Linked DNA regions of Homo sapiens. The protein of the gene in region 1 binds, or shares a complex with, the protein of each later gene. Each region holds a gene or a part of one and is shown in the gene's direction. Other genes may lie near its edges. The genes, in order: POLR2G, GTF2A1 and GTF2H5.

Region 1 (2,788 bases):
TGTCTCAAAGTAAATATGTAAATAAATACAAATGAAAGCTTAAAAAAAAAGAGAAAAGGGCTGGGTGCGCTGGCTCACACCTATAATCCCAGTGCTTTGGGGGGCAGAAGTGGGAAGATTGCTTGAGCCTAGGAGTTTGAGACAGCCTGGGCAACATATCAAGACTCTGTCTCTACAAAAAGTTTTTAAAAATTAGCCTAGCATGGTGGTGTGCACCTGTGGTTTCAGCAACTTGGGAGGCTGAGGTGGGAGGATCGCTTGAGCCCAGGAGTTCAAATTTACAGTGAGCTGTGATCGCACCACTACTTTCCAACCTGGGCAACAGAGTGAGACCCTGTCTCAAAATTTAAAAAGCAAAAAACAAAAACACAACACTTGAGGGGACAAAGAAAAGGCAAGATCACTCTTTTGTTTTTTTTTTTTGAGACAGAGTCTTGCTCTGTTGCCAGGCTGAAGTGCAATGGTGCAATCTCGGCTCACTGCAACCTCCACCTCCTGGGTTCAAACGATTCTCCTGCCTCAGTCTCCTGAGTAGCTGGGATTAGAGGTGCACGCCACCATGCCCGGCTAATTTTTGTATTTTTAGTAATGACGGGGTTTCACCATGTTGGTCAGGCTGGTCTGAAACTCCTGACCTCGTGATCCACCGGCCTCGGCCTCCCAAAGTGCTGGGATTACAGGCGTGAGCCACCGTGCACGGCCGTAAGATCACTCATTTTTTTTCTAGGTTGGACTCTTCACAGAAATTGGGCCCATGTCTTGCTTCATCTCTCGACATGTAAGTCTGGGCACACTGGGTGGGGCTGAGGAAGACAGATACTCATTCATCACCATCTATTGAAGCATCCATTTAAAGTGCTAACCTAGATCTCACTTTCCTTTCAGTCCATCCCTTCAGAGATGGAGTTTGATCCTAACTCCAACCCACCATGTTACAAGACAATGGATGAGGTGAGTGGACAGAAAGAAGTCAGGGAGACAAGGAGAGAATCAGCCATCCTGAGGGAGAATATTGGCCTGGGGATGGCTGAGTACAGATGGTCCCCGAATTACCATGGCTTGATTCATGATTTTATGACTTTACGATGGTGTGAAAGTGATGTGCATTCAATATGCCCCCGGGCTTACAGTGAAGTGATTGTGATGTAACTTCTCATAAACTGAGGAGCATCTGTACACTGTTCCCTCCTCTCCTCAGGATATTGTGATTCAGCAGGACGATGAGATCCGCTTAAAGATTGTGGGGACCCGTGTGGACAAGAATGACATTGTGAGTCTTTTCCCCACCTCTCTACCTATACCAGGTTGAGCTGAGAACTGTCGATTTCTTTTTTCTTTTTTTTTTTTTTTTGAGACGGAGTCTTGCTCTGTCACCCAGGCTGGAGTGCAGTGGCGCGATCTCGGCTCACTGCAAGCTCTGCCTCCCGGGTTCATGCCATTCTCCTGCCTCAGCCTCCCGAGTAGCTGGGACTACAGGCGCCCGCCACCACACCTGGCTAATTTTTTATATTTTTAGTACAGACAGGGTTTCACCATGTTAGCCAGGATGGTCTCGATCTCCTGACCTAATGATCCACCCGACTCGGCCTCCCAAAGTGCTGGGATTACAGGTGTGAGCCACCGCGCCTGGCCGAGAGCTGTCGATTTCTTACCACCCACAGTTTCAGGGGGTTCTGTGCTCTTCTGCCAGGAAGAAGGGATGGATGGGCAGAAGGCCTGGGGCTGCAGGGTGGAGGTTGGTTCTGTGCTCATCTTGGCTTCACTTTCTTTTTACCATCTTTCTTGCAGTTTGCTATTGGCTCCCTGATGGACGATTACTTGGGTGAGTGCCTGATCATAGGTGCTGGGGTTATTGCCTGGAGAAGGGATGTGTGGGGGTGGGGAGTAATATAGGATTCAATGCCCAAATCAGAGAGACAGAAGAAACTTTCATGCTGTCTGCTTGAAAGATCCAGGACATTTGCCTTGGGATGAGGAGTACATGGTTGTGGCTACCCTAAATTCCGGTTCTAACTGATATGCTTTTTCTGGTTTCGCAGGGCTTGTAAGCTGAGCCTGGTGGCCTCCTACCCTTGGTCCTACTCTAGGAAGTGTGATTGTCACACTTATCATGTTGTCCAGAGGTCCAGTCTGGCTGCTGTTGTGGAGGCAAGGAAGGCAACTCATCCCAGAAGGCATCTGGTGCTTCTTGTAGCTTAACTACTGCCTCCTCATTTTTCAGTATGTGTTCTAAGTATAAAAAGTCCTTGGTTCTCATGGAAGTGTTATCTTCTTTTTTTTTTTTTAGCAGGAACAATAACTCTTTAAAGAGGCTGTGGAGTTGGCTGCTTACTAGCCCCTCTTTTTCTTAGACTGATGCCTCTACTAGCCTCAGCCACCCAGGGGAACTGACTAACCCATTTGTCCAGGTTTAAAGGTGACCTCACTGAAGTCAAGGCTCTGATGTTGGGTCTTTGGCTTCCAGCAAATGATACCATCATTAGTGGCATTCTGGGTCCTGATCTAGTTCCAGAGTGTTTGCTCTTCTCCTGCCCTTAAAAGTAACCAAGAGCATAGCTGGGAAAGAAGGGAGAGGAGACAGCAGACAGGGAGAGATGAATAAGAGGCTAGTAATGACACAGACTGTAGGATCTCAACACAGCCTTTCCTAAGTTGGGTATATAAACAATAGTATATCACTATACTAAACTGAACTGAAGATGTAAAAGGGCTCACAATCTAGTTAGGGTGACAAAAAATGTATGAAATGCCTACAGGATTAAAGAAACATGCCAATTTTCCCTGGCAC
Region 2 (3,657 bases), on another chromosome or scaffold:
TGCCTCCCTGGTTCATGCCATTCTCCTGCCTCAGCCTCCCAAGTAGCTGGGACTACAGGCGCCCGCCACGACGCCTGGCTAATTTTTTTGTATTTTTAGTAGAGATGGGGTTTCACCGTGTTAGCCAGGATGGTCTCGATCTCCTGACCTTGTGATCCCCCCACCTCGGCCTCCCAAAGTGCTGGGATTACAGACATGAGCCACCGCTCCCGGCCGGGTCTCAGTAATTTGATAAATCGTCCTGAGATGAAAGAGTTTTAGAACTGCTGGTTTAGAAGTTGATTATTAGGCTCCTTTAAATCTATGTACAAATAAATAATCACAGTTAATAAATGTTAAGGAACATTTGTTGTGGTCTCATCCATTCAGCATAGGTGTCGAGGCTGCAACTTGGCAACCAGTTGCAAATCTTACCTTGATTGCGGTGATGAGGTAGGTCTTGGCGTATTTATTAATAGGTATCTACAGGAAACTTCTCTAGAATTTTCAATAAGAATATTCCTGTGTGAGGAGTTTGAGACCAGCCTGGCCAACATGGTGAAACCCTATGTCTACTAAAAATACAAAAATTAGCTGGGCATGGTGGTGCGTGCCTGTAATCCCAGCTACTGGGGAGGCTGAGGCAGGAGAATGGCTTGAACCCAGGAGGCGGGGGTTGCAGTGAGCCGAGATCATGCCACTACACTGCAGCCTGGGTGACAGATCAAGACTCTGTCTCAAAAAAAAAAAAAACAGAAAAACCCAAAAATATTTCCTGTGTGAGGTAGGAAAAATATATAGGTGTGAAACAGATGAGCAAATATTTATTTACCTTGAGAAAAATTACAGGTTACTAATAGTGAAGAGTAGGTATCTAAAAATACAAGTGTAAGAGTGCTAATTCCGAGACATGAGTTGGAAGAAGAACAATATAAATTGTTCAAGTAGCATGAAGTAACTGAGGGATGTGAATAATAAGAAAACAAGCTTCTTTTGATTCCTTAGTGTAACGTGGAATGAGTTTTTTGCAATTTATGTTATACTTTTATAATGGTTGTCCTTGTAGTTTTGTGACCTTGTATAGAAGATGCAGCATTTTTAGGTGTAGAAAATCAGTTCTAAAGATGTTAGGTAATTTTCTCTAGGTCAAACTAGTGGTCAGTCTAGATTGTTATCTACTCTCGCTTTTCACAATGAAAATCTGGAGAATTTTCCCTATCGTTAATAGTAGAATCAAGACATTCTCTCGAAGAGAATGAGCATCTTTGAGACCAAATGTTTCCACCTCCATTTTTGTTATATATGACTTTTTTAGTACATATTTTATAGGTAACACACTGATTTTTAGTTTAATGGTTAGTTTTTAAATGACAAAAAATGTGACCTACTCAATTTTGAATCCCCAGCTTCTACCACGATGTCTGGGCATATGTGGTTGGCATTCAGTAAGTATTTGATTGAAGTGTTTGATAATAGATACGGCACCTGAATCTAACTGAACAAAATAGTGTAATATTCTTGTTGTTTTTAAATGGGCCATACTCTTCTATCTGGGTTGTATTGGAGTTAAAAATAAAACGGTTAGACTAAAATGAGTTTGTTATTTTAATTCTCTGCACTGAATTTCTTCAGGATCTCATTAGAATTTCTAGAATATGCCCTAGATTTAACAGCTGGACAGCCAGCATTGTCCAATAGAACTTTCTGCAGTGATGAAAGTGTTCTGTACCTGTGCTCTTCAGTATGGTAGCCACTAGCCACATGTGCTTATTAAGCACTCAAAATGTGGTTGGTGGAACTGAGGAACTGAATTTTTATTAATCTAAACTTAAATCACTACATATGGCTAGTTGCTGCCATATTGGACTGCTCAGGTTTAGACATTCTTGCTTAATAAAACGAACTTTAATTTCATATTTTATGGTTTAGAAAGCCTGTCATTAGCTCTAGCCCCTCTCCCTACTTTCTGGGGCCATTTTACAAACTTATCAAAAGCTTGTATAAGGCTGTAAAGGAGGCAGTGGTGAATTAGATTGAGAACAAAGATGAATGATGAGAATGCATGTAATTTGAGGGTTAATGAGGTAAGCAGAAAGGGAGATGATAAGAATATTTCAACCCAATCTTTGAGGTTATCTTTTGAAACACTGCAGGCCTACTTTAATGTGTAAACTGTGAGAGGTAGAAAAAACACAATAAAATACAGCCCTGGTTTTCAGTAAATCTATATTCGAATGTAAATGTGTTTTGGATTGGTGAGTGTCTGTGGGTGGGAATGACACTGTAGAAATTCTCTTCAAAGTGAATGATAAAATCAACCTGATTTCTAGATTTTCCAACCTACCTATGTCCAAATGTCAAGTACTGTGGGAGATATAAAACATTTTCTCTCTTTTTAATAAAACAAATGAGAAGAGTTGCCTCAATTGGAAGTATATCTGAAATTCAGTTTATCTGCCTCTGGTTCAGATTTCTCAACACTGGCATTATTGACATTTTGCACTGGTTAATTCTTTGTTGCAGGGGCTGTCCTATTGATTGTAGAATGTTAGCAGCACAACTGGCCTCTGCCCACTAGATGCCAGTAGCACTCTTCAGTTGTAACCAAAAATGTCTCTAGACATTGCCAGATGTCGCCGGGGGCCAAAATCACCTCTGGCTGAGAACCACTATTCTAAATATACTCTAGTTATATATATATATATATATATATATATATATATAAAGTACTTGATACACTCTAATTATGTGTAAATATTTGGACCATAAGTTGAATAATAATCTACTATTTCATTTCATTTATTCTTAGGGAAAGCTCTGTTTCTACAGCATTATTTCTTGGGAACCTAGAAGTGTAATATATTTTATCCAGGAGCTAGATGTTTTGTGAAAGTAGGAGAATCCTTCAGAATTTCTAGCCCACCATGTTGCCAGGTTTAGCCACCTAACCTCTGGGCTTGTGATGTGACGGGCTGCAGTGAAGGTCTCTGATGTGGCCTGGAGACATTTTCTCCATGGTCTTGGGGATTAACAGTAGGGGAGTGATAAGGGGATTAACTTGGGGAGCAGTAGGTCTCATCACATTTTATAGGTGAGAAAGTAGACTTGGAATGTGCTTTGACAAGGTCGTTTAGCTAATAAATGGTAGAGCCATGAACCTAGCCCTTTTGCCTCTATGTGACATATACAGTACTTAGCAGTAAGCAGGAAGGTAACAGAGTTTTGACTAGATCTTGGGTTGTTGGTGAATGGCACCTGAGATGGTTTTGATGGTCGGTGACCTGCTCTGATAGCAGCAGTCTAGTTTAGAGACTAGGAATTTGGACTAGTACTGGGATTAAAGGGAGGCAAGTGAGGGTCCTGGGGTACAGAATGCAGAGACATTCACTCTCTAGCCCTGACTGGGACATTGAAGTCAGACCACCTGGGTTATATCCCTATTCTGTCTGCCATTAGAGTGATCTTGAATAAGCTACCTAACTTCTTTCTTGTCAGATTCTTTTTCTGTAAAAGGGAGATAATAATGTCTATCTTATAGGATTTTTGTGAAAAAACTAGTTTGTACATGTATTTATAAAGTACACAGAATTTAGTAAGTTTTAGTTATTAGTCAACACAATATACAAATGTATACCTGAATCATTTTGGGAACAGAAGATGAATTTTCTCCATGTAATT
Region 3 (3,657 bases), on another chromosome or scaffold:
CCATTCATCCTCCTGTCACCAGCTGTTGTTGCCATTCAGTTGCATGTCAGTGTCATCCCGGAGATCCTCATTCTCATTAAGCCTTATATGCCGATTTTTCCTTTTTTTCAGTCACCCAATAAACCACAGACTCCCAAGCTATCTCTGTCTCTTGCATTTTCATGATCTATGGCCCTGTTCACCATCTCCTACCCACCACCCTCCCCCACCTACCCACCGCAATCCTTTCCACTTTGCCCTCTGGGACATAGTGAGATGGCAGCAGCAGGATGCCCTGTAGCCTCAGCCTCTTCTCTGAACTTTCCTTTTTCCTTCCCCCACCCACCTTTTCCTTTTTTGCTGTGACAAAACCTGACTTTGTCCTGAGCTCACTGCTTCTCCCACCACCTTATCAGGTGGTGCCTTTTTTCCTCTACAAAGGCACCCTCTTGTACCATTGGGTCAGGAAACAGGATCAGTACCTTGCTTATTATTGCCACTTCCAGAAATTCTCCCTCCCTCTTCCATAGAAACCCCCAGTTATCAATCCCAGATCATCAGAGTGGACTACCCACCAACCCTCCTCTTTATAATCATCTACAGACACCCCAATCTGTCCTGAAGGTTTTCCCTTGAAAAAACTATCTTCAGTAGCTCTTCTCTCAAATCCTTAGTGATGTTAGTATCCGTGTGGGTAGTCCTTTAGATACCCTGTTCTCCCAGTTCCCTGGCCTCCTCTTCCACTGAGCTTGTCCTCCACCTCATCACAGCCACTCATTCACATAGTTGTAGCTAGACCTATCCTTCCTTACCCTCGTGCCAGCTCTTCAGTCTCATTTCAGGCATCTGACTCTGACCACCACCTCCTCTTTCCAGTTCACTCCCTCTCATACCTCACTCCATCATTTCTTCAACTTCGCCAGACCTATGGTCTGTTGATATTCCCATCTGTTCAGAGTCCCACACCTCTTCCTAGCTTCCAGTCTACCTTTCTGGTCGTTGTAGCAAAATTTCTCAGTAAAGAGAAGACTTGGTTCTCTTCACTGTCTCTAATTTCTTTCCTCCCATATGAAACCCACTCCAGTCATGCTTTCCCTATTATGACTCCACCAAAACTGCTATTGCCAAGGTCCAGTGACTTTCTGAATCCAGGGATCAATTTTCAGCCCTTGCTATACCCTATAAGCCTTTGACAGAATTGATCACTCCCACTTCCTGAGTAGCCTTTGTTCACATCGCTTTCAGGACTCTTTGGGTTTTCTTTCTACCTCGGTGGTCACTTCTTACTCAGCTTCTTCACTCAGGGGCCAGTAGGCATCTCAAAATATAACATCAAAAACTAAACCTTTTTTTTTTTTAGTAGAGTCAGGGTCTCACTGTGCTGTCCAGGCTAGTCTCTAACTCCTGACCTCAAGCAGTCCTCCAGCCTAGGCCTCTCGAAGTGCTGGGATTACAGCATGAGCCACCATGCCCACCCTAAAACCAAACTTGATCTTACCTGCAGATCTTACACATTCCTCTTTATCTCAGTAAAAATCTCCTCCAGTCTTCCATTTGCTCAGATGAAAAATCTTGGAGTTTTCTTGTTCCTCTTTCTCAAAGCTCATGTCCAGTATTAGCAAATTATGTTGGTTTTATGTCAGTATATATCTAGAATTCAACCACTTCTCATCACCTCCACTATTACCACCTACATCAAAATCATCATCTCTTGCCTGGATGTCACCTCATGGGTCCCCTGCTTCCATCCTTGCCTCTGCCACTCCCAGTCTTTTCTCAACCCAGCAGCCAATATGATCCTTACAGTTAAAATTTAAGTCAGTTTGTAAGTTAAATCATGTCACTTGGTAAAACCCAAAGTCCCCCAAATCAGTTCTGAGGCTCATACTCATCTAGGGATAGAAGTAAATCCCGTGTTAGCATCAGTTAATACCTGTGCTTGTACTTAAATCTTATTTTTCTTGTTTTCAGTAAATTATAGTGACATCTTTTGGATTAAATTGTTACCTTTACAATTGATATTGACATTTCTCAAGACACCAAAAGATTATATGAGATTTTTTTCTCAAGAATTGCAAAAATCTGTGGTGCAGCTTGACATTTTTATATTCATTTTTTGCTAAACACATTGTGTATTAGATCTAAAGAGTGTCCTTTGTCATGATTCAAGGTTTTTATGAAAGAGACATTTTGCTGTAAATCTGTACTGCCCGAGAAGAAATTGTATCCCTCTTTTCCCTTATGACTATCCTATTCTTTCCAAACCAAAAACCACAAGTTAATAAAATTGAATTTGGACCTCTTTCCTTGAATGCCTATTACAAGCCAAGCACTGTCCTTGACATTATCTCCTTTAATTTCCGTAAACAATTCTGTTATGTAGCCTCACTTTTGAGGTTGGGAACAGAGGCTCTGGGAGATTAAGTACCTATTCTATTCAAGGTCACACAAGTAAGTGATGAAGCTGGGGTTGAATCCAGGTATGACTCTTGATATACACCCTGCCTGACCAAAGTGACTGTTTAACTGGTTTTGTAAGTTAATTTGTCACTGGTAAAACATTGAACACCTACTGGTTCCTTAGATGTAATGGGCATAGACAAGGAAGAAATTCAGTGTTTAAATCAGTTAAGAAAGCTGTGATTCTAGGCCCTACTAACTACAAAGCTTTCAATATTCTTTTATTTTTTCCACTTAGTGACAAATTATTCTTTAAAAATCTTGCCATTGGCCTCTGCCTCTTCAACTTACACTAATAGTTCTTTTTTTTTTTTTTGAGACAGAGTCTCGCTCTGTCGCCCAGGCTGGAGTGCAGTGGCACGATCTCCGCTCACTGCAAGCTCTGCCTCCCAGGTTCACACCATTCTCCTGCCTCAGCCTCCCAAGTAGCTGGGACTACAGGCACCCGCCACCACACCCGGCTAATTTTTTGTATTTTTAGTAGAGACGGGGTTTCACCGTGTTAGCCAGGATGGTCTCGATCTCCTGACCTGGTGATCCACCCACCTCGGCCTCCCAAAGTGCTGGGATCACAGGTGTGAGCCATCGCACCCGGCCAACTTACACTAATAGTTCTAAAATGAAGCCATGTCTATAAATTGTTAACACTTGAGGCAGAGAGGAAGTGAGGGATTGAGTAACAGAACTTTAAAAATCATTCTAAAAATTCTACATGTTCACATTTAATTGCTCAAGTCTCTGTGATGTGATTTGACAACAAGCTGTCTTACAATCATGTGTTTGTCTTTACAGTGATCCTGCCATGAAGCAGTTTCTGCTGTACTTGGATGAGTCCAATGCCCTGGGGAAGAAGTTCATCATTCAAGACATTGATGACACTCACGTCTTTGTAATAGCAGAATTGGTTAATGTCCTCCAGGAGCGAGTGGGTGAATTAATGGACCAAAATGCTTTTTCCCTTACCCAGAAATGAAAATACTCAATATGGACCATTTAGGAATTATAAGCAGCAACTGTGAAAGACTTGCCACTCAATATCTTAGGTGACTGATTAGACATAGAGGGTTGTTTTAGGAGCATGCCACGGGAAAGACTGAGGGATCATGATCATTTGTTCAGAAAAAAAGCCCCTGAACTGATTTTGTTACCATAGAATTTAAAAAAAAAAAAAGCTTTAACAGTTGGCTGTAATTTGGCTTTTATTATCCTTTATTAAAA

The links.
Region 2: POLR2G (region 1) and GTF2A1 share a complex: the UniProt entries of both Homo sapiens proteins name them as parts of the TBP-based Pol II pre-initiation complex.
Region 3: POLR2G (region 1) and GTF2H5 share a complex: the UniProt entries of both Homo sapiens proteins name them as parts of the TBP-based Pol II pre-initiation complex.

Annotation. Positions count from the first base shown.
Region 1 is NC_000011.10:62,764,455-62,767,242, forward strand, and holds the end of POLR2G (DNA-directed RNA polymerase II subunit RPB7), read left to right. Parts: intron 1-727; coding exon 728-778; intron 779-885; coding exon 886-951; intron 952-1,198; coding exon 1,199-1,270; intron 1,271-1,788; coding exon 1,789-1,822; intron 1,823-2,039; coding exon 2,040-2,053; 3' UTR 2,054-2,256; downstream 2,257-2,788. UniProt on the Homo sapiens protein: Core component of RNA polymerase II (Pol II), a DNA-dependent RNA polymerase which synthesizes mRNA precursors and many functional non-coding RNAs using the four ribonucleoside triphosphates as substrates.
Region 2 is NC_000014.9:81,210,922-81,214,578, reverse strand, and holds part of GTF2A1 (transcription initiation factor IIA subunit 1), read left to right. Parts: intron 1-3,657. UniProt on the Homo sapiens protein: TFIIA is a component of the transcription machinery of RNA polymerase II and plays an important role in transcriptional activation. TFIIA in a complex with TBP mediates transcriptional activity.
Region 3 is NC_000006.12:158,188,746-158,192,402, forward strand, and holds part of GTF2H5 (general transcription factor IIH subunit 5), read left to right. Parts: intron 1-3,231; coding exon 3,232-3,412; 3' UTR 3,413-3,657. UniProt on the Homo sapiens protein: Component of the general transcription and DNA repair factor IIH (TFIIH) core complex, which is involved in general and transcription-coupled nucleotide excision repair (NER) of damaged DNA and, when complexed to CAK, in RNA transcription by RNA polymerase II.